Linked DNA regions of Homo sapiens. The protein of the gene in region 3 purifies or fractionates together with the protein of the main gene of each other region. This does not show direct contact. Each region holds a gene or a part of one and is shown on either strand. Other genes may lie near its edges.

Evidence for each region. The genes of interacting proteins can lie anywhere in the genome.
Region 1: the proteins of NR2E1 (region 3) and ARL10 purify together in Homo sapiens (affinity purification with mass spectrometry; 3 studies listed by BioGRID and IntAct, with this or other methods). This does not show direct contact.
Region 2: the proteins of NR2E1 (region 3) and RGPD5 purify together in Homo sapiens (affinity purification with mass spectrometry, with the first as the bait; 3 studies listed by BioGRID). This does not show direct contact.

Annotation. Positions count from the first base shown.
Region 1 is NC_000005.10:176,360,697-176,368,759, reverse strand, and holds the start of ARL10 (ADP-ribosylation factor-like protein 10), read right to left. Parts: upstream 3,274-8,063; 5' UTR 3,197-3,273; coding exon 3,014-3,196; intron 2,381-3,013; coding exon 2,179-2,380; intron 815-2,178; exon of another isoform or gene 729-814; intron 1-728.
Region 2 is NC_000002.12:109,789,993-109,797,577, reverse strand, and holds the start of RGPD5 (RANBP2-like and GRIP domain-containing protein 5/6), read right to left. Parts: upstream 3,274-7,585; 5' UTR 3,113-3,273; coding exon 3,041-3,112; intron 1-3,040.
Region 3 is NC_000006.12:108,160,941-108,169,257, reverse strand, and holds the start of NR2E1 (nuclear receptor subfamily 2 group E member 1), read right to left. Parts: upstream 3,237-8,317; 5' UTR 2,493-3,236; coding exon 2,468-2,492; intron 1,236-2,467; exon of another isoform or gene 1,232-1,235; coding exon of another isoform or gene 1,096-1,231; intron 1-1,095. UniProt on the Homo sapiens protein: Orphan receptor that binds DNA as a monomer to hormone response elements (HRE) containing an extended core motif half-site sequence 5'-AAGGTCA-3' in which the 5' flanking nucleotides participate in determining receptor specificity.

The DNA.
Region 1 (8,063 bases), on a different chromosome or scaffold from region 3:
ACTGCCCACAGCCCCCACCCCACCCCGGGCCCCCGCTCACTGCCCACAGCCCCCACCCCACCCCGGGCCCCCGCTCACTGCCCACAGCCCCCACCCCACCCTGCTTCTAGCTTAGTGAGCTTCCACCAGCCGGGGGCAAGGAAAAGACCGCAGTTTCCGCAGCTACTCAGACTGGATTTAGCTCTAGCTCTGATAGGCGGGTCTCTTGGGGCAAGTCCCTAGCTTTAAGCACCAGTCTCCTCACTGAACTTTCCTAACGGGTTGTTGCAGTAAAACCCACAGGTACCACGTGCGATGTACCTTTCACGGGACTGACACACAGGTGCTCAGTAAATGGAAGTCTTCAGTTCTCTCCCCTGGGTTGTCTGGCTTTGCCTCTTGCTAATTCCTAGCTTTCTCCTACAGGTTCAAAACTGTCAGTGATGGCTGTGACAGGAGCCAGGAGTCCTATTGTCTAGAAAACTCAGGACCCCCTGCCCTGCCTATACACAGCCATTCTCCATTCAGTTTCCCCCATCCCCTTCTTTTCCCTTGGAAATGTCATATTTCATCCTATGAACACATGGTTGCCAACACAGTCCCCCAGCCTGGATCACCTTTCTTTTCCTCTCTGCTCCTCTGCACAGTCCCATTGGTCACCCCGCACCCTAGTGTTTCTGGCTATGTTTCTGACACTTGAGGATTCTAAGCTGTGAGAGTCAGAGGCACTTACCTCTGAATCCCCACAAAGCCCTCAGCACAATGCCTGGCACATAGCAGGCACTCAACAAATATTTACTGAGTGCTTGCTAGGTGCCAAGCACTGATCTGGGTGCTGCAGATACAGAGGTGAGCAAGGCAAGCAGGGGCCCTGCACCAAGGAGCTCCCTCCCTAACTGGGAAGGACATGGCAATGACATCAACACATTTCAAAAAGGAAAGAAATAAAACAGAAAAAAGGGAAAGTGGCTGAGGTGGAACAGGGGTTGGCCCTGGATTGGGTGGTCTGGGTAGGTCTCATCAAGGAAGTGGCATGTGAGCTGAGTGGGATGATGAGAAGGAGCCAGCCATGGGAAGAGGCAGAGGAAAGCATTCCAGACAGAGGGGAGAGCATGCTGGAAGTGTCTGGGAAACAGAAAGAAGGCTGGGGTGCTGAGGCACTGCAAGAAGGAGAAAGAGATGGCTGTGAGGCTGGCTGGGGCGGGCCACATGGGGCCAAAGACCACAGTGAGGGGGTGGGGAGCCCCCCAAGGGCTTTAAGCAAGAGTGACATTACCTGACATGGGTTTTCTCTAGCTGACACTAGGGACAGAAGGGGAAGCAGGAAGACCAAAGAGGAGGCTGTGGTGCTGAGAGGAAAGATGACACTAGTTTGGGCCAGACAGGCAATAGTGGAGGAGGGTGTGCCACTGCCCACTGCCATTCCAGCCTGGGCGACAGAGACCCTGTCTCCAAAAAAAAAAAACTAGAATGGTGGGGTGCGATGGCTTACGCCTGTAATCCCAGCACTTTGGGAGGTCGAAGCGGGCAGATCACTTGAGGTCAGGAGTTCAAGACTAGCCTGACCAATGTGGTGAAACCCCCGTCTCTACTAAAAATACAAAAATTAGCCGGGCGTGGTGGCGGGCGCCTGTAATCCCAGCTGCTCAGGAGGCTGAAGCTGGAGAATCGCTTGAACCCGGGAGGAGGAGGTTGCAGTGAGCCGAGACAGCGCCATTGCACTCCAGCCTGGGTGTCACAGTGAGACTCCATCTCAAAAAAAAAAAAAAAAAAAAAAAGACTAGAAAGGTGGGTGACCTTGGATTCATGATACTACTGCTGGAACTCATTTTCCTCTGGAGATAACGAGGGTAGTGACCGATTCTAGTTTTATGTAATTGTTTAGGGGAGTTTTCTTAAGCAATGCCCGTCAAGTGCTTGGCATATGAACCCTTAGCTGTTAGTATCTCTGTGTTAGGCCTATCGACTTTGGTAGGGGTGATGGGGCAGGCGGTGCAGCTGGAGAGGCCCGATCACGAAGGGCCCTAAATGTCAGAGCACAGAGCGTGGGCTGAATCCTGTGCCCCGGAGAGCGGTGGGAAGGATTCGTAGAGGGGAATGTGCTGCTTAGACATGCATTTTGGAAGCCCCCTTCCCTGCAGAGAATCCAGGACTGGTCCAGTAGAGGAGACGGGGAGATGGGGTAGGGTGTCCGCTCACTTTCTAGCAGGTCCACCTCAAAGTCCTTGGTGGGCAGACGCACGGAGTTGAAGCCCCAGGTGGGGATGTGGCCTTCCAGCGGTGGCTTCCCCGACAACACGCGCAGGAACGTGCTCTTGCCTGCGCCATCCAGCCCCAGCACCAGCACCTCGCGCTGTTCCAGCTCCTCCAGCGCCGGCTCCTCGTCCTCCTCGTCCTCGGGCTGCGGGGAAGCGGAGGTAAGGTTGCGGCTGGCGGCCTCCCGAAGGACCTTTCCCGAGGGAAGACCGAAGGCACCAGAGGGCCCAGGCCCGCCTTCCACCCGTCCTGGGACAGGCAGGCATGGTCTGGATGAGTGGGACGAACGCCGCCTTTGCAGTCCTGAATTCCAAACCCTTGGCGAATTCCTTAAACGCTCGCGCGCCCCGCTTCCTCCACCGGTCTCGGAGTCCCGACCGCAGGCGGGAGGGGATGGGGTTTCTCCCGACATCCCCACCCCCGGGCGGGGTGCACTGCGCAGGCGCCGGAGGGGCGCGAGCCGACCCGGCTGGGCCCCGGGATGCTCCCGAGCCGCGCCCTCCAAACTCCGGCCCCCGCTGGAACACCCGAGCCTCATGGCGTGGAGCGACGGCGTGGCGCCAAGGCGCCGCACGCACCCAAGCACACCCACCCGTTCCTCGGTTCCCGGGCTCTGACCGCCCACCCGCGCGGGGCCTGTGCGCTGCGGCTGCCAAGCCCTCGACCCCCCAAGCTCCCGGCACCAGCAGGGCCGTTCCGTGGTCACACCCCTTGGCCACATGCGCGGAGTCGCAGCCCAGCCTGCCCGCCCTTCCGCAGGCCTCGGCCCGGCACTCACGTCCCACTCGTCCCACTCGGGGAGGCGGGCAGCCTCCGCGCCCCACCAGGCCTCTCCCCGGTCCCAGCGCCGCTCTCGGCCGCGGCCGAAGTAGGTCTTCCAGAGGATGAAGAGCACCGAGCCCAGCACCGCCGCGGCGCCGCCCAGCGCCAGCACCAAGGGGCCCAGCGGCCGCGGCGCCATCGGGCCGGGCGAGGGACGCAGGTGCGGGTTGCACAGGCCGAGCCCACTCGCCCGCCGAAGATGGCCCCGCTGCGACTGCTGCGGCCGCGCCCACCCACCCAGACCCAGTCCCGCACTACAAGCCCCACAATGCACTGCCGCTGTCACGGCAGGCCGCCCGGGACCCGGCGGCGTGGGTGGTGGGGCGCTGGCCGGCGCGCGGGGACCTCCGGTCCCCCTGCCAGGTGCAGGGTGGAGGAAGGAGAGGCTGTGCCTGGGGAGGACGGGAGACGGCGGTGCTTGCTAGCATCCACCAGGGGTTAGCTCACGGCTTTTCTCCGTTACCCCTTACAATGATACCACGCAGAAGGGAAAACCGAGGCCCAGGAGTTAAGTAACCCGCCCAACGCCGCATCGTAGTGCTTTGGTGTAGCCTGCGTTCAAACCCAAGCGATCTGTCTCCCGGTCATCCCTCAAGACCTCGGGAGGAAATTGAAGCAAGACGCCCGATATCACACGGCAGTGGGGTGGCAGAGGCAGGAATAGAACCCAGGTCCGTGGCTCCCCGCCACCTCTAGCCTTCTTTCGCTGCCTCCCGGACCACAGGGGTTTTGCTGGGGTCCTGGTCAGGCTGAATTAAGCAGTGTCAGGACTTCAGAATGTTTAGGGCTGACTGCCTTGTCCTAGGTACCCCCAGTGACTGCCAAGGCTTCCACGTGTGTAGCACGAGGAGGAAGAACAGGAGAAACGACCTGAGTACAGCAGTCGGGTTCTTTTGGCTCTCCAGAGGGGTGACGCCATGTACGGCTGGCTGTAGGGTACATGGGTCGAGAGACCGCCTGTGGCTCTCAGGGCCCAGCAGGGCTACCTCTTCCCCTTTATATTGTCTCAACTCTTCACCTCCTTTTAGTTTGCGATTCCTCTGTACCCCTGGCTCTGGGTCCCAGCCCCTATTCCTTCTGATTTGTCCCCCTTTCCCTTTGACTACATATATATGCTCCTCTCCTCCCAGATAGTGATGTTTTAGCTACATCTTATTTCTTCCGGCATTGATTCTTTTGAAAAATTTATTTCTGGCCGGGTGTGGTGGCTCATGCCTGTAATCCCAGCACTTTGGGAGGCCGAGGCAGGCGGATCACCTGAGGTCAGGAGTTCGAGAATAGCCTGCCTAACATGGTGAAACCCCATCTCTACAAAAATTAGCCGGGCGTGGTGGCACGTGCCTGTAATCCCACCTACTCAGGAGGCTAAGGCAGGAGAATCGCTTGAACCCAGGAGGAGGAGGTTGCAGTGTGCTGAGATTGCGCCACTGCCCTCCAGCCTGGGTGACAGAGCAAGAATCCGTCTCAAAAAAAAAAAAAAAGAAAAAAAAATTAGCTCCTCCTCAAAAATACACCCACTTAGAGGGGAAAACCCACAAAATTGCTAAGATTAAAAGTTTGGCTGGTGCGGTGGCTCACGCCTGTGATCCCAGCACTTTGGGAGGCCGAGGCAGCCGGCCGGATCACGAGGTCAGGAGATCGAGACCATCCTGGCTAACACGGTGAAACCCCATCTCTACTGAAAATCCAAAAAATTAGCCGGGCGTGGAGCCGGGCGTGGTGGCAGGCGCCTGTAGTCCCAGCTACTTGGTAGACTGAGGCAGGAGAATCGCTTGAAACTGGGAGGCAGAGGTTACTGTGAGCCGAGATTGCGCCACTGCATTCCAGCCTGGGCAACAGAGCGAGACCTTGTCTCAAAAAAAAAAAAAAAAAAAATGTTTACAGTCTATTATTTGTGGAAAAGAAATAGGTGCTCTCACATAGGTGCTATGCACCAAGACCATGACAGCTTCAGACATTGGTACCACAAATATCAGGGATAAAGTTTTTTTTTTTTTTGAGATGGAGTCTCACTCTGTAGCCCAGGCTGGAGTGCAGTAGTGTGATCTCAGGCCTCCCAAAGTGCTGGGATTACAGGCATGAGCCACCACACCCAGCCAGAAATAAATTTTTCAAAAGAATCAATGCCGGAAGAAATAAGATGTAGCTAAAACATCACTATCTGGGAGGAGAGGAGCATATATATGTAGTCAAAGGGAAAGGGGGACAAATCAGAAGGAATAGGGGCTGGGACCCAGAGCCAGGGGTACAGAGGAATCGCGAACTAAAAGGAGGTGAAGAGTTGAGACAATATAAAGGGAAAGAGGTAGCCCTGCTGGGCCCTGAGAGCCACAGGCGGTCTCTCAACCCATGTACCCTACAGCCAGCCGTACATGGCGTCACCCCTCTGGAGAGCCAAAAGAACCCGACTGCTGTACTCAGGTCGTTTCTCCTGTTCTTCCTCCTCGTGCTACACACGTGGAAGCCTTGGCAGTCACTGGGGGTACCTAGGACAAGGCAGACTGCAGCCTCCGTCTCCCAGGTTCAAGAGATTCTCCTGCCTCAGTCTCCAGAATAGCTGGGATTACAGGCACCTGTCACTACGCCTGGCTGATTTTTGTATTTTAGTAGAGACGGGGTTTCGCCGTGTTGGCCAGGATGGTCTCGAACGCCTCAGCCTCTGAAAGTGTTGGGATTACAGGCCTGAACCACCGTGCCCAGCCAGAAAAAGTTGTTTTAATCAAATAGTAACTTCCAGGAAAGTCTTAAGTTTTCATGTATTTGTGGCTAAGAAATAAATGAGATGATCCCACCTTATGATCTACATAAGGGTGCAAAGTGCTATTTCTTCCTTTTCTGACTGAGAGGTGATATACATCCCTTCCTGTGGTGGATAAAGAGCAAGGTGCCAGCTTTGCTTCCACAGAGGTTAAAAAATATGGCATATTTTAAAAGCTCCAAATTAACAAAGGAACACCTTTAACACACACACGCACGCACACATATACACACAATTATACTGCAATGTAATTGTGCTGTTGATAAGCTAATTATAGAATTCATCAAAGACTTTAATTCTTAGTGCACTCAAGCACCCTGGTCTGGAAACAGCGCTTAAGTTTCAAGTCGCATGAGCAAGGCCTCTCAGTTCTGCCAGTACGGCTGGAAGCCTCAAATGCTGAAATCTAAATGTGACATTCACCCTGCACCACCAATCATAGCTCTCCTGAGATGAGTTTTGATGGCGAGCTTTGGACTGGGGTAGAAACGTGGATAGATTTTTGCAAATTCTGCTGTAACTTCGTTGCTTCGCCTTCTTTGTGAACCCTTCAGGGATAAGAGAAGTCTTCCTTCAGGATGTGACTGACACCTCAGCTGGCGCCTCTAAGCCTCACTCTCCTTTATGTAAAAGAGAAATGATATTAGGATCGCCTTCCCTAGGGGAGGCAGGTGAGGTCGGTTCCCTTTTTTGGTTCAGCTACTAGTACGAACCCTGCCTAACCCCGCTGTTTTGGGAGACAGTCCGTGCTCACTGCACCGCTTGCTAATCGAAGTGACTTCTCATCTCTCCCAGTCTCAGCTTCACCTCCGTGAAGTGGGAAAAACAGGATGACAAGTGCTCGCACTTGGCAGCCCTTTTTGAGCCTTGAGGGCTTGGGTTTGTGGGTGTCATTTTACTATGCTACCTCCGTCTTCCCTTAGCTTGTCACGGACCCAGGCACAGCACACGCGCTGAGGAAGTGGTGGTGAAGTGTGGCGTTTCCTCTCGGGGCTGGCGGATTCCACACTCGGAGCTGCGGCTCCACAACTCGCTGGGCGGCGAAGGGCATGGGGAGGGGGCGGGTCTCGCGATCGTGGACAACAACTCCCAGCATGCCCTGTGCTCCGCTGGGCCAAGTCTCGCGCGAGATCCCGCGGTCTCCGGAGGCTTTATCTGCAGTGCTGCCTGCCCGCTGGGTGGTACTGCTACCTAGTGGGTCTTGGGGACCTTCGAAATCGCCGCCGCTCTCACAATGGCTTGGGTCCAGACTGCGCCACAGCCTCTCGGGAGACGTGGGCCCTCGGAACCTTTTTAGTGCCGGACTCCGGGCCGCAGGCAGTCCCGCGGCAGCAGGATCACAGGTGAACAGATGGCGGGCCTGGGCCCTCCCTTGGGGCTGCGTTCTCTGGCGATCAGGAGGGGCGCTTCCGGCGAGGCCCGATCTCGGGGCCCCTCCAAGCCACTCCCCTCTCCCCGCACCTCTTAACCCTTCATCCCGGCTTCGAGCTCGGCTGGGTCGCCTCTTGCCTCCCTGGCTCCGCTCTCTGGGGTCTCCGTAATGGGGCTTCTCTCCGGGAATGCCCTGCAGCTCCCGTACGGGCTTCCCCTCCGCTTCGTGGGACCAGCCCAGCCCGAGCCCCCGCGGCTTGTCCTCAACCTCATCTCCCCACACCCCGCCTTCGGCTAGGGTCCTGGCCCTAATCTTAGCCTGGAGGGGTGGGTGAAGCAGCCGGCCTTTCGTATCCTGGCGGCACCGTCTTGTATATTGTGAAGGAGAGGCAGAGGGACGGTGAGCTGGGGGGTGGGGGCACAGGGAAAGGGAAAGGGGAAGGGGACGTGTCTGGGGCGGGAATGCTCCCTGGACTGGGAGGATGGCTGAATTCGGCCTTTGCGATGCTCGTTAGTGAAGAACTATCAATAACTTGTTTGCTCTGTCTGAGTCCTATCGGGATAGAGGGACGGTGTAGCAAGCTGAAAAACAAGAGTAACTTTCTCAGGCCCTCGTTTTAACTCCCCTGTAAACTGGGCATGAAACTACCTACCTTGCGCACGGACCACTTATCTGTGACCGTGGACAAATTTACTTAACTCCTCTGATTTTTAGTTTCCTTCTCTTTATTATTATTTTTAACATTTTTTTAATTTTTTTAATTTTTATTTTTGAGACCGAGTCTCACTCCGTCGCCCAGGCTGGAGTACAGTGGCTCGATCTCGGCTCACTGCAACCTCCGCCTCCCGGGTTCAAGCTATTCTCCTGCCTCAGCCT
Region 2 (7,585 bases), on a different chromosome or scaffold from region 3:
CTACACCAAAACAAAGAAAGTAAATGAAGAGGACATGAGATACAAGAAACAAAGGGTCTAACTCAGAAAAAAGATGAAGGGAATTCTCAAACTGGTGATAAAGGGAAGTCCCAAGAGCACAGCTGTGTAGCAAAGAGGAAGAAAAACCAATCCGGGTTGGAGAAGTTGGTTAGTAAGGGTATTCCAGGTAGACAGACAATCAATCAATCAATCAGTGTTTTAAGCTGAAATTGATGGGATTATCTGACCAGTTTGACCACATTTGAGGGTTTAAATTGCTGAGTTTAAGTAAGCAAGTAGTAACACAACATACAAGCAAACCAAAAAATAAAGCAATTATTCAGTCCAGGAAAACGTGGGTGCAGCACACCAGCATGGCACATGTATACATATGTAACTAACCTGCACAATGTGCACATGTACCCTAAAACTTAAAGTATAATAAAAAAAAAACAACAAAAAACTGCACAACAAGGGCAATTCAAATGCAAAAATATTTACCTTCTATTTATATAAATGTTAACTATTCATTTAAACAAAAACTGCAGTAACAGTACTGAAAGAATGAGGGGCAAACCAAAGTGTCTGAGGACAGTTTTGGAGGAGCATAATAGCCAGTACAGAATGTCTAAAATGGGGCCGGGCGCGGTGGCTCACGCCTGTAATCCCAGCACTTTGGGAGGCTGAGGCGGGCGGATCATGAGGTCAGGAGATCGAGACTATCCTGGCTAACACGGTGAAACCCCGTCTCTACTAAAAATGCTAAAAAATTAGCCGAGTGTTGTGGCGGGTGCCTGTAGTCCCAGCTACAGGCTGGGGCAGGAGAATGGCGTGAACCCCGGAGGCAGAGTTTGCAGTGAGCCGAGATCGCGACACTGCACTCCAGCCTGGACGATAGAGCGAGACTCCGTCTCAAAAAAAAAAAGAAAAGAAAAGAAAAGAAAATGTCTAAAATGGGAGAAAGGGAATTAAAAATAACAAAAGTATATATGTGTGTTACTCAGAAGTATGAAGTATAGATGTAAAGGGCAGAAAAAACAACTAACAGCTGTCAAAGGTGCCTGCCTGTAGTCCTAAGTACTCAGCAGACAGAGGTAGGAGGATCATTTATGCCCAAAAATTTGATGGGCAACACAGCAAGACCCTATTCTAAAAAAAATACAAATAAAAATAAGAGCTGTCAAGTAGACTTTGAGAAGTAGGAATCAGCTGCAGAATAAGAAACCGACTTGACAGAACATAGAAAAACTAAACAGAAGCCATCTGGAAAAAGAAAAACTAGAGAAAGAATTATATTTTTTTTCTTTTTTTCTTTTTTGGAGACAGAGTCTCGCTCTGTCACACAGGCTGGAGTGCAGTGGCGCAATCTCTGCTCACCACAACCTCTGCCTCCAGGGTTCAAGCAATTCTCCTGTCTCAGCCTACCGAGTAGGTGGGACTACAGGCGCTGCCACCACGCCCGGCTCATTTTTGTATTTTTAATAGAGACGGATTTTCACCATATTGGTCAGGCTGGTCTCTCGGCCTCCCAAAATGCTCGGATTACAGACGAAGAATATTTTTAAGAAGGGCAAAAGCACATGTGAGGGAGTAGAAAAATGGCAAAACAAGAGGAGACTAACAAATGAAAGCGCAATGGAAGACTAGAAAGATATGATATACAGACGCATCATCACACTCCAAAACTCCGACATTCTAGAAAGCATGGGCAGTTCACAGATGGCCAGCCTCTGCCAAACTGGGGGAGAATACTAACCTCTTCATATTCTTCACAGCCACTGCCTCTTCTCCCTCCATTCTTTACCTTCTATCCAAAGCACCCTGTTTTGTCATTTCACTCAAACCTAACTTCACAGAATAGCTTCACATGTTCCAGTTACTCACTAGTTAATCCATATTCCGCTGAAATCCCCAGGTTCTAATGTAAATGACTTTAAATTTGGGGGAAAAAAAAGACTCTAAATGTAAGAGAGGTGTCATAATAACCAATCGTCAAAATTCTGCCACCACTCCACTTTATTTAATGGAGAAGTTATGTAGTTGAAAGAACATTCTAACTTCTGTCTAGACCAGTGGTTTTTAATCTTTTGGAAGCCAAGGTCCCCACTAAGAATCTCAGAAAGGCTCCAAACTTGCTTTTTTTTTTTTTAAGCTTGTTTAAAAAAAAAAAAATCAGGCTGAGCAGAGTGGCTCACACCTGTAATCTCAGCATTATTTACATGTAAAGAGGAAAAATACCCTTAAAACATCTGTGGAAAAGGTTAAAAATTGCAAGCCATACTAACGATTTGTAAGAACTTTAGAATTTTTTTTTTTTAAGCAAAGGCAGCTACCAAAGTGTTCCGGGCGGGGAGGGGGGCGAGGGAGGTGAGTATGAGGAGTGGAGTGGAGCTGGACCCTTACAAAGGGACAGCGACAAACACCTCATACTCAAAACAAGGGGACTTTCCGTGTCATTTGCGCCGTCGGGCCATTGCAAATGTCCGCGCTGAGATGCCTACCTTGTCACTCGACGCAGCCGCCAAAGCTCACCCGGAGCTGCGTCAGTCCCCACTGGGTTCCTCCAGGCCAAGGAGGTACGACCTCCGCCGCAGCATATAAAGTAAATGTCCAGGAGATGGGAAGAAACCCGCCGATACAGCACCCGGGTGCCCAAGCCCCCGAGAACTAGGCCGCGCGGGTACTACGGGGTGCGCGATCGGCCAGAAAGCCCGGGCCAGGACGGGCCCAGGAGCGAGCACCGTCGGGAACAAGCGTCGGGAACAAGCCGGGATTAAGAGGAAGCGCCGGCGCCAACGGTCTCCCGCCCGCCGCGGTCCCCCCAGGACTCTTCCTGCGCTTGCAAGCGCCACGCCGCCCACAGGACTGCGCCAGCCGGCCGGCGCCTCAACAGAGCGCGCCACGGAGCAGCGCCCCTCGGGAGACATGACGCCTGAGCCATCGAGGCGGCCGCCGCCGCCGCCCCCCCCGCCGCCGCCGCCGCCGCCGCCGCCCCCCGGCCGGGTCGAGGCCGCCGTCGCTCTCTTCGAGACCCACTCACCTGTCGAGGCGACGGGGTGAGACCCAGCACCGAGGCGACGTACCGCTCCACATCGGCCTTGCTGCGCCTCATCGCGCCGCCAACCTGGCTCCCGAGACGCGTGCGAGCACCGCTCAGCCCCGCAGCAGTCGCCACTTCCAAGAGGAAAGTGCCTGCAAGCCACTGAAGCAGCGGCGTAGCCGGCGGAGGCCCACTGTGACGAGCGTGCGGCGCCGCCCACGGAGGCCCACTGTGACGAACCTGCGTTCTGCCTCAGCACTGTGTATCCTCGGCGACGTCGGCGCTCCAGCTGCACTCGGCCGGGCTCGTGGCGCCGCCCTGTGGTCTGAGGGTGTCTTGACATGATCTTATCTATAGAAAACCTTAATGAAACCTCGAAAAAAAAAGACCTAAACTATCAGTGATAATAAATGAGTTCAAAGAGATTGTACCATACGAGGTCAACTAAAAAAATGAGATGTCTACTTATACACCAGCAAGGAACAATTCAAGTAAAATTAAGTAAACAATTCCATTTATAATATTATCAAAAATAATAAAATAATTATGAATAAATTTAACCCAAAAGTGTAAGACTTGTAGACTGGAAACTACAGAACACTGTTGAAGGAAATTAAAGAGGAGCTAAATCAATGGAAAGACATCCTGTGTTCATTAATTGGATGTAAACATGTCTACACAAAAACTTGTATACAGGCCAGGCATAGTGGCTCACGCCTGTAATCCCAGCACTTTGGGAGTTTTTGATGGGAGGATCACTTGAGTCCAGGAATTTGAGACCAGCCTGGGCAACACAGCGAGACCCCCATCTCTACAAAAAAGAAAAAACAAAAACAAAAGAAAACCTATACATGAATGTTTATAGCAGTACTATTTTTATTAGTAAAAGGTGGAAACAATCCAAATTTCCATCTACTGAAGATGGATTTTTAAAATGTGGTATTATTGGGCACAGACACACGTGCCTGTAGGCCCAGCTACTGGGGAGGTTGAGGCAGGAGGGTCGCTTGAGCCGGAGAGTTTGAAGCTGCAGTTTGCAGCTGCAGTGATGCTCCTTGATCCATGCAGGAGCTGTGATCAGGCCTGTGAAGAGCCACTAAACTCCAGCCTGGGCGACATAGTGAGATCTCTGTCTCAAAGAAAAATGTGGTATAGCCATACAATAGAATATTACTTTTGCATAAAAAATAATGAAGTACCAATGCATACTACAACATGAATCAGCCTTGAAAACATTATTCTAAATTAAAGGTGCCAATCACAAAACCTCATATATCATTTCATTTATATGAAATATCCAGAGTAGGCAAACTCAAAGACACAGAAAGTAGACTAGTGATTGCCAAGGGCTGGGTGGAGGGGAAATCTGGGAGTGCATGTGACTGCCAACGTGAATGGAGTCTCTCGTTGGGGTGATAGAGATATTTTGGAATTAGATTTTGGGGAAGGCTGTAAAACATTGCAAATTTACTAAAAAAAAAAAAATCATTGAATGAAATTAAATCCTATGGAGATGATAGGTATTTTCATTTTGGCCAGGCAATCTACCTGATTAGGTTCAAGCCACAAGTTCCCACCCCTCCATTCTGCAGTCTGGTTCCAAAGTCAGTTCAGTGTCCAGAGTCTTCACAGGACTATTCAGTTCTGTCTGACTTGTGCACCACCCAGTGGCCAGTTGTGTCTGTGGGTGATGGTCTCTCAGTTCAGCTGTCAATCTTTGGTGTGTTGAACAGGACGAGATCTATGCAGGAGCAGCTCAAGAATGAGCCCTGGGGTTTATAGACAGGTTAATGGGGTTGCTTCACTGATTAACTCTCTCTCAGCAATTACCCTGTTGCTTTCATTTGCTGAGGCTTCTCTTTTTAGTCTTCCAAGCAGAAAACAGGCTTTCGGTATCTGGCTCTACCATGCATTTCTACATCTGAAGCCAAGCAGTGGGAGGACTGAATTGGAAGAGAAGCAACATGGATTGTTTCTGCCCTCTTGGGACCACAGCTCTGTCAGTTGGAGAAGGTTCCCTCCTGCGTCTTGGCTCCTGGGCTCCTCTTGGGGCTGGTGCCAGTGCCACTGTGGGACTGCTTGTGGGCTGAGGTATGAGAGAACAGGGAAAAGAAAAATGGGGAGGAACGAACTTCTGGATTCCCTCGGAATGTTAGGAGACCCTTTTCCCGTTACTTGAGCCAGAAATAGAGGGCATCTTCTGGAGCTCTTTCTATCTGCACCCTGGTGCCCACTGCCAGGTTAGTCACGGGATGCCATAGGGGAAACATGGTTATCTCACCACCGGTTTGGTGGTACTTCAAGTTCTGGTCTTCTTGGGAAAGCTGCCTGCAACTATTTAGTTTTCAATGTCTTCCAATAGCTGCTCCATGCATTCTGTACTGTCTCCTGGCTGGACTCCATGCAGGAAGCCTGTCTCCTCCACAGTGTGCACTCACTCAGGTCATTGCTAAGTTTTATTGTTGGCATTTGTTTGCTTTAATTTTTCAGACTGACTCCCTAGAGGTCGCTTCTTGTTTGCATAGTTCGTCAGTCAAACATCAGTTAAAGCCAATATGGTTTCCACCATCTGCTGCTGGATCTATGTGCAATGGGGAGGAGGCACGCCCCGGGCCATTTGCAAGGGTGTTCCGGCTTTTACTTCCTAACACTGGCACCGGCACACACACAGGCTGTGTGCCCTGGGCATATGGACATGGCTTGGGCTTGCTCTAATCTCTGCCAGCTATGAGCCTTCAGTCCATTTGGGTAGTGTGAAGAGTTTACTAAGCTCCCTCTGGCTCTCCGACCTCCCGGAGCTCCCTCTTACATCCATGACTAATCTGCAGGTCGTTTGCTCGTCTCCAAAGGCCCAGAGCCTCAGGCTAGGAGTCAGTGGCCTTTCTTCCTCCTGGTCACTGATATCACCACCTTAACTAGCCATGCTGCAAATCAAAACCTTCCTCACTCTTGCCTCCAGCCCCTGCAGCGAGGTGGCAGGGGAGCTTATCTCCACAGGCTGCCCTGCTGGGGGCCGCTGTGTGTGTTATCAACAGCTGGGGTAAATGGGGGTAGCAGCCTGGGCAAAGATGCCACGGACACAGGCTGGTCTTATCCAAGGCTCACTTTAATTCTTCTTTTTTTTCTTTAGGGACAGGGTCTGTCTCACTCTGTTGCCCAGGTTGGAGTGCAGTGGTGTGATCACAGCTCACTGCAGCCTCAATCTCCTGGGCTCAAATGATTCTCCCGCCTTAGCCTCCCATGTAGCTGGGACCACAAGTGTGCACCACCATGCCTTTTTTGATTTTTTTTTTGTACAGACGGGGGTCTCACCAAGTTGCCCAGGCTGTTTTTGAACTCCTGAGCTCAAGTGGTCCTTCTGCTTCAGCCTCCCAAAGTGCTGGGGTTACAGGCGTGAGCCACCGCGCCTGGCCAGCTTTCATTCTTAAACACATCCCCATTTGTGCCGTGCCTTTGGTAAAATTGCAGAATGCTAAATGGTTTGTCCAGCTATACAGTTACATTTTGGAAAGATTTGTTGACCTCCTCACTTCATCATGCTAGAAGTGGGAACTTTGATTACTCTTTAAAGAATCTGAAGATGAAGGGAAGACCAACGCATAATTTGAGAGAATGGCAAGACTGAGAAAGGTTTCTGTAGCATGGTGCATGCATGTGTGTGTGCGTGTGTAGGGAGAGGCAAAGGGTTCTGACAAGAGGAAGAGGCTGAGGAAGCAGGCTCATCTCCACAACATGCTGCTGCCACCCAATCATAGGGTCTCTTGCAGCAATTCCAGTCCTGATCTCACAAACCTCATACCCTAACTACGGTCCCCCTAATTGGGGTCCCTCCTCAGAGCTTTCCTAAGGCTCCCTAACTTTTCCCCTCACCTCGGTTGAGGCCTCCATGGTTTGGACTTGCTGGTTTTGCCTTGCTCTTCCCTTGATAAATACACCATTTATTCCGGTTCAGCCCTTGGAACTTTAAACCTTAACCCAAGCCTCCTCCACCCCACTATATTAGCCCAAGCCTAGAGTATCAGATCTGGATATTTGGGTAAAGATGCAGACAAATTTTGAGTTGGAAAAGAAAGAACTTAACTCATTACTAAAAGATGACCTTGATAGCTATATATATGGGAAACAAGAATGTATCAGGAAGTTAATCCTTTGCTCACACTACACCTGGTGCATGTAATTCCATCTCTGAGTTTTCCCCTTATTATTATTATCTTTTTTTGAGATGGAGTCTCACCTTATTGCCTAGGCTGGGGTGCAATGGCACAATCTTGACTCACTGCAACCTCCGCCTCCTGAGTTCAAGCGATTCTCCTGCCTCAGCCTCCCGAGTAGCTGGGAGGCTCAGACACAACCTCCTGGGCTCAAGTGATCCTCCCACCTCAGCCTACCTAGTGGCTGAGACTACAGGAATGTGCTGCCCTGTCCGGCTTGTTTTTGTTGTTTTAATTTTTATTTTACTTCCCAGGACTCTAAAAGACTTGCTGACCTATTAACACACAAACTAGTGCCCACTTCCCTACTCCCCATCTTGTCACTTTGTCCCCA
Region 3 (8,317 bases):
TGAGCCGCGGCTCCCGGGGCAGATTAGAAACAGGCAACCGGGCTGGGGCGGGGCCCAGGAGGGAGGGACGCGAAAATTCCGGGGCATAGCGGGCCTGTGCCTCAGACTCCGCCACCCAGCCACGTTAAGGTGACTTGGGGTCACGAGACAAGCTGGTTGACCCCGTTGCAAAGCTCCTCTCATTTAGCAAGCCGAGCGAGCTCCGACGTGAGGCGAGCCGGAGTTTCCTGAAGCTGGAAAACCGTTCTTAACTTCCCTCGCCAGGGGGTCCCCTCGGGGCTTTTTGTGTGTCATAATTGCCTAAAGATATATGGCAGCTTCGATTACTGTAATTACCATCAGAGGCTGTTGAAAGAAGTTAGTCTGGGCTGCAGGGGTGACTGGCCAGGGTCTCGTTACCACCCAGGCGGGGCTCCGGGTGACATCGCTCTGCTCTCCAGCCGCGAGAAGCCGGGCAAGGCGGGGGCTGCAGCTCTGTCTGCTCGACCCAGTCCTGACCCGGCCCGCTGCGCGCCGACCTCCTAGCTGCCCCGGGCCCGAGGGACGCAAGTCTCGGGTTGGCTGCCGCCACCGGTCTGGAAAGGGCCTAAATGCAGCGGCGCCACCGGCGGGGGCCGCTGTCCTGCGGGCCTGAGAAAGCTCAGCAGCCGCGTCCCGACCTGAGCCGGGGCTGGAGGCTTCCAAGGCCTCACTCAGGCTCTTGGCAAGTTAGAACGGCCAAAGTTTCCGCAAGGAGCCCGCTGTGGTTTTTCCCCCAAAGTCCGGAGGGTTGGCCTGCCTCCTAGTCCACAGCGGGGGCGCAGCCGCAGGCGGGCAGAGCTCCCCGCTCACCCCTCCCTCGCCTCTGAGGCCTCACCTTTCAAGGGCCCCAGGGGCTCCACACCCCGAAAAGGACGAAAGAGCCCGGGGCTCCTTACTTCCAGGGGTGTAGGCGAGGGCCTGTCCCGGGGCGAGCGAGCTAGGAGGCCTGCCGAGACCCACGGGCTTCAGTTTTTGCAACGGAGGCTCAGAATGCAACAGAAACGGCCTCCTGAGCCTCCTGGGAAGGACACTCACGCCCGGGAATGCGGGCAACAAAAATCGAGGTCGCTTTACCTCCTGGAGATTCCAACAGCGAGGGCCAGGGTAGGCCCGAGCCTAAAGGGAAACCCAGTCCTGGGCCAGGGTCCGCTCTGCATTCCGGCCGCGGTGAGGGCTCCTTCTCTGCTCCCTCTGCCCCAGCTCGAAACATTTCTCCTTTTCTTTTTGTTCACGTTCATTTTGCTCTAATTTTTTAAAGGTCAGCACCCAAAGCAAAACAAAATGAAAACACAACCTCCTTCTTGGAGGGGGGTAGGAGGGCGGGAATTGCATCCCACTTAAGTGAGACTTCATTACCAGTCCTCAGAAGTATCTCCGATTCTCCCAACTTTCAAAGACTCAGGACAATGAGGGCGAGTGAAAGGGGGAGGGGGAGGGAAGGAACGCACAGAGCGCCAAAAATGCTATCTGCGAAAACAACACAAGCAGCAAGGCAACTTCGGGATATGGGGACTGCGGCGGCAACGGTAGTCCCCAGCCTCAGACCCTGGAGCCCGCAGCCGTGGGCCACTGGATGGCGGGAACTGAAATGCCCCCGGGAGATCTGAGCACCGTGACCGCGCCTGCTCAACGCTGGCTCGGGCCTGCACATTCTTGGGTTCCGCAGGCAGGGTGCAAGCAAATGCCCTCGCACACACACTTAGCCCTGCGCTCGTGAGTCTCGGGGTGGTGAGAGGTCAGCTGCGGCCTGGCGTTCGGAGAGCCGGCAGCTAAGGAAGTTCGAGGAAGGAGAGAAGCGCACGGAGGGAGCAGGCCGCGCACTCCTGCCTCTGCTGGGCTCCGGCTCGAAAAGTCCTTGGGATTAGGGATTTGGTCCTCTCTTTGCTAGAGTGGTTCGCCATACTTTAAATTCCCCAGTTATGACCTACGCGGATTTAGGATTAAGGAAAATGTGACTTTTAAATTGTTTCTGCTTCCCAGTTTGCAGGATTATTTGAAATAGCTAGAAACGGGGTGCAAAGCATTCCATTCAAAATCCGCTTTGCACAGAGTTGCTTTTGCGCGCTGGAGCTCGGAGTTTTGAGCGAGTGTGTTATTGTGCTACCGCCTGGAGCTGCGGCCCAGTTCCCGCCCCCATGGCCCCCCCATCCAGCACCTGGCGGCTAAATGGAGACAACTCATCCGACTGGTGGGCTGCGCGGGTCGTAACCTTCTCACCGCACCAGACAGGGGGGATCAAGCAATCCAGAGGCAACGAAACGGCTCTCCCCTCTCCACGAAATGCTCCAACTCACGGTCTACAGGTCTGGGCCGAACGCACACGCCCGCTGGAATCCCTCTCAGGGGCTCAGATTCGCAGCGCTCCAGGCAGGACCTCCCCCAGCCTCCCCGCTCGCTCGCCCCAGGCTGCGCGCCTAGGCCCCACGGCGGCCCGAGAGGTACCCACTTGTTGATCCGGCTGGCTTGCTCATGCTGGCTGTCCCGGGGCGGAGCGGTTGGTGGGCGCTGCCCGAGTCCCGGCCGGCAGCGCCCGCCTCGCCGCCGGGCGCCGCCGCTCTCCAGCTGCCCTCCAGCCTGCAAGGCTCCTGGGCGGGACAGGTGGGTGTCAGTCGCGCGCTGCGCTGCTCCCTGGGCGCTCAGAATTCGTCCAACAGTGGAAATTTAAGCATCCTTAAGTTTCTTCCCGGCTCTTGCAAAACCGCAGCTGCTGGGAATGCTGCTTGATATGGACACACACATGGACAGACAGATGGAGAGATGGACAGGAAGACTGAGGAAGAAGGAAGAACAGCAAGAGAGGGATGTTGAAAGACAGAGATGGAGACACGAAAATGGCCTTCCTACGGAGCGAAATCCCTCTTTTTCCCCATTCCTGTCACTCAGTCTTCGATCTCTCCCTCTACATAGGCATGCAGAGTGTGGGCAATCTCTGCCGACCGCTGGTCTCCCAAGGAAAGAAGGAAAACACTACCGCAGTCTCAGAGGCAGACGGGCTCCGCGCTGCCGGAACCCAAGCGCAGAGTGGGAAAACTAGATTGCTGGGAAATCTTCCGAGGGAAGAGGCGGCCAGGTCCGGGTTTCCGGGGAGAGCCGCGCACGCAGCGGCGAAGGGTCCCCGAAGTTCATTACCCCGTGACTTTGTGCCTGTCGCTGCGGGCTGGGTCCCCTGTAATATCTCCAGAAGCGCTCTGACAGGCAGCCGCGGGGAGGGGAATAGGGCGTCCCTGGCCCACTTAGCTTTTCCCCCAACTCCTGGCGGGGTCTGACGTCAGCCATGTGCGGGGAGGGGATGGGAAGAGGGAGGGGGTTAAATGCTAATGATATTAATGAACCTCCAAGCGGCTCCCAAAGAAAATGCAGGCGCTGTCGGAGCTTACGAGTTAGAAAGTGTGAATATGGGAGTGTGGCTCTGTGCGTGCGTGATGGTGAGGACGGTGCGGCTCGTAATAAAAATGAATTCGTATATTTCACGGCAAGAAGGAAGGGGAGGGGTGACGGGGCTTTCTCAAAACGCTTTTCCCCCTCTCTCCAGAGTGCCAGATAGATTCGCGGAAGAAATTGGGTGGCTGTGTGCTGGCGTGTGATTGTGCGCGCCGGACATGGCCATGTGAGTTGGTTCATTCTTGGTCCGGTGCCCCTTCTGTTGGGTAAAACTTGGATCTGGCCCGAGGTGAGTAATTTACTCATTTTGCACATATCTACGGAAAGTCAGGGCTGAGGATGGGGTCTTCTGGAGGTTCCGCGTTCCTTCGGCCTTCGCGCAGTGGGTTTGGGCACCAGCCGAGGGGAGGATGCCGCCAGCTTCCCCAAGCAGAGCTGGCCCATCCGACGCTGAGCGAATCTCTTGTCGCCTCCATTATCTGCACCGGGGCGGCTGGAGGGCAGAGCGTTCCCTCCCGCCGCTCGTCCTCGGCGGGCGTTGCGGGCTCCCGCTCTCCGGGCGGAGGAATAGTGAAGAGAGGCCCTCATCCCCTACCCCCTCCCCATTCCGCTTGCCTTCCCGCGATTCCTGAGCTCTCTCGCGCCTTGCTCTGTGCGCGGCGCTGGGAGAGCGCATGCCGAGGGAGCGATGATCCCCGATCTCTAAGAGATTAATTCTATTTAAGCTCTCTCGGCAGCTTGAACTTGTCGAACAAGAGCTTGCCAGTCCCTCCTCAGGGCGTGGACCCGGCCAGAGGTCAGAGGTTACACCTCCCGCCCTCCGCTCGACGTTCGCGGGGAGGGGAGCTGTGGCCGGCGCTCTGCAATTCCGCCAGCCCACCCCCCGGTCCCTCTTTCTCCAGACTCGGTGTCATCCCGGGCTTTCAATCAGAGTTCGCCTGTGCGTGCAAGTGAATGCTGGAGTCCCCCGAGCCCTGGGAGGGCGCAGCAGGTCCTCCGCCTGGGCGTCCCAGGGGGAGCGGGCTGTGCGCTCCAGTGGGCTCCGACAGCACGTGATTGCAACTTTCTGCCCAGCCTTGGCTCGGCCTCGAGCTCGGGGTCTCGCACACCACACACACCAGAGCCTGTGTCCTCCTTAGTGGGGCGCCGCGACCAAGGCTGGGGTCCCGGGGAAAGAGCAAGATGGGGGGATCTTTATCTCTCAGTTTATTCCCTCCTCCTCGGTTTTTCGAATTGGGACGAGATTGGGGGATTGTGGGACGAGGCCATAAGCGCGTAGGGGTTTATTAGGTGACAGGAGGAGAAATCAGCGTTTTTTGACAGCCAACTTGTACAGCCGCTTGTGGAGCTAGCCCGACCGGCGGCGTAGCGCTTTCTCGAACTCGGCGCCCAGAGAGGGGAGGAATTTCGGGCAGGATTTGAGAAACACAATAAGATGCCAGGCTCCGTTTGGAATCCTCAGGTTCTGGTTCACGCCAGAAATCCACTTGCTTCAGCCACCTACCACCACCACCCCCATAACGCGGACGCGATTATGGGGTTCTTTGGTTCAGGACAAAGAACTTCAAGGGTGGAACTAATTTATCTGGGGCGAAGATGAGGGCAGTGTGGGGGGTGATGACTAGACCCAGGCCTGTCTGCAGGGGAAGCATTTAGGGGTCTGTTTCGAGAAGGAGAACTACTAATTGCTTTGCCTGTGCGGGGGCTGGACGATGGCTTTCCTGGGCTCCAAACCACCTCTTCCCCTACTCTCGAACGCTCCTGCCAGGCTGGCTCATTTGTAGGCACCAAAACTTCTGGAAAATACTCCCAAGGCTCATCAAATTGTCTCAAAATCAAAATGGGTATCTTCCCTCTTTTTCCTGTCACCAGTCCCCGATCAAGCATGGTGTCAAGAAGATGCCTACGGAATACACACACACCCCATTCAGCCCTGGCGAAAGGCACAACACTGCGCGCACACACCCGCAGCATATGCATCCTGTGTTCTGTGCGCCCGGCTGTAATTATCGGCGCGCTTTGCATAAATCACAATACAGTTCTGAAATCATCGTGATGACTTTCTGGCATGACTGGTTCAGTGGTAACGGCGGCAACAAGCTCCAGGGTAGGCGGGAGGGGCTGAGGCCCCGTCGCCCACCAGGTCCCAAATAAGCCTGGAGCCTTAGTGCGGGCTGCCTTCTACTCAGGCAAAGCTGCTGCAGGCCACGGGGGACCTCGGATTTAAGGCGTAGAAACTTGGGGCTACCATGGGTACAGCTCAGAGAAGAAAGCCTTTGCAGGACAAAGACTATGGCTCTTCATCTTTCTATCCACAGGCCCCAGCATGCTGCCTGATTCATAGTAGGTGCTGCATAAATGTTGGGCAAATGAAGGGAAGTCACCTGCAGATGCCCTGAGGGGCCACTGGAGGCACAGCCAGGCTAAACGCTGGAAACCACGAGATAGGGATTCAGGGCTGTGCCAACAAGCTGTGTGACCTTAGGCGAGTGGCTAGACCTCTCTGGGTTCCAGATTGTTATTTGTAAAAGGATTCTCACCCTGTTCGGTCTTAACTTTCAAAGATTTTTTCCTGTGAGTCCATTAAAGGAAATGATTGATAAGGGGCAAATGCCATCTGGCTCAGAATTATCTTTTAACAGAGACAAGACCTTAAGTTACAAGGATAAGTTTATTGCTTTGGAAGGTGGTGGGGATAGCCACACCCTCAGAGGTTCTGAAACCCTTCTAAACAGGTTCAGACATAGCCCCTAATTTCCTCTGTAGGCGCTTGTGAGTATGGAGCTCTCAACCAAAACCAAAGCCTAAAACGCAGGGAAGGTTCTTTTATCGAAGGATGTTTACATTTTGGTCCAAGAGATAGGAAATAAGATCATGAGAGGACCATGGATCAAGGGGTATTTCTGCCCATCCATCAATCTACCCACTCATCAAATACTGAGCACCCACTATATGCCAGACCCTGGGGATATAGCAGATTAATGACATGACTCCTTTCTCCATGTAGCAGGGAGCAGACACATAAAAGATGATAAATGTTTTAGATTGGGATGAAACACAGGACACTGGAGATATATACAAGGAGCCCTAAACCAGTGTGCGGTGACATAGGCTGTCCAGAATTGCCCTGGAAAGCTGGCCTTGTGTTAGGAGAATCTACTGATTCTACAGTCCTCTGAGGACTGTATTGTATTATAGCTCATTCCTCTGCTAGTGCCCTGTTAAAGAGAATCCTATTAACTAGGTTGTATGAGAGAGGCAGGGGTACAGAGCACCCCTCAAAGTTTCAGACTATCTGAGGTTGACTGCTAGCCCTGCCATTCACTAGCTTCTCTAAAAACGGTGACATTTTTTCCATTAACACCCCCTCCACACACACACATTCTTCTAAATTAAAATACCGAAGGTGAAAGGACAAGCTTTCCCATCAGCTAGCAGAGCTGATGGAATTGGTGTTAAAGAGACCCCTTCCCCAATCCCCTGTGATCGACCCCTCACAGAGGCCATTCAACCTCTAGAGAGTCACTCCTTTAAAATACCATTCCCCTTACCGATATGCAGAGTTAAGAGATGCTCAGACCAAGGAAATCGCTGGGAAAACCTACCAGCTGAGCTTGGCTGAGTTTTGATGTTTAGTATCCAAAAACATTCTGACACAAGTTTTTGTTTGTTTGTTTGTTTGTTTGTTTATATGAAGGAGGAAGTTGATTTGCATTTGCTTCCACATCATAATTCAACCTATGGCTGTTGTTTGCCCAGTGGATGGTGAGAGAGGAGGTGGGTCATGGAGCAGTGTCTGGCACATAGTAGGTGCTTGCTAAGTGCCAAATGAAAGAAACAGTGTTTGCAGGCTTGCTCTTGATTCTGCTGTGGATCTCTCTACAAGTTGTTTGATTCTTATCCAAATTTACCCCCCAAATAAACAAGAACAATCCAGAAAAGAGACGCTTGTTCTCTAGAATCCAGTGGGTCCTGAGTTGCAGGGTTTTTCTTGACACTTTTGAGCACTGTATTGCCAAAAGTAGTCTGTTACTCCCCACAAGTAGGAAGATGAACGCTGCTAACAACAAGGAGACAATGCTCTGTGTGACCACCCCCCTCACCCCACAACCTTAACAAATAACAAGTCATGTCTTTGCATTTATTCACACCCTTGGTTGGACAAAAATTCAGTTCTAAAGTCAGGCTGAGACTCCGAGGCTTCTAGAGTCCCGCTGCATCTTGACATTCTCTGGCTCCAAGAATAATCAAGTAGAAACATCTTTCTAGTCCCTTGCACCCTGGCACATAGTGGTGCTTTGTAAATGTGGAATGTATGAGTGAACCTGCCTGATGATACTCAATGAAAGCTACTGAAGCTTGAGGTGAAGGGCTCATTTTTGCTCAGCCCCAGCAATGGGGTAGGAAGGGAACAGGGACAGGTCCTCTGAATCTCCAAACCTTGGGAAGCAGTGCAGGTCATTTTTGGCTTTCTGAAAACAAAAGAATGACTAGAGAAACAAGAAAGCAGAACACAGACTACATCCAGGGAGATACTGGCTGCCAAGCTTTCTTCAGCCTCCTAATTTCCTGTGAATTACACAGTCTAACTTGGCTTCCATTTAGCGTGGAATCACAGAGCACATAAGTTACAAGGCACTCCTCTAATGTAGTCATTTTATAGATGAGGAAAGTGAGAACCTTAGAGACAACTTGTCCTTGCTTACTCACTGAGAGACAGAGATCATCCCCAGAACCCATATCTCCTGATGCTGAGTCCAGTGCTCTTTGAAATACTCATTCCACTGCATTCTACTGCATCCAGCTACCTCTCATTTCCCAGAAGGGCTTCTAGAAGCTCCAATTAAAGCAATTTCACTTACTTACTAGTGAAGTAATTAGAATTAAGAACAGTGTTTTGTGCATCTTGAAACTA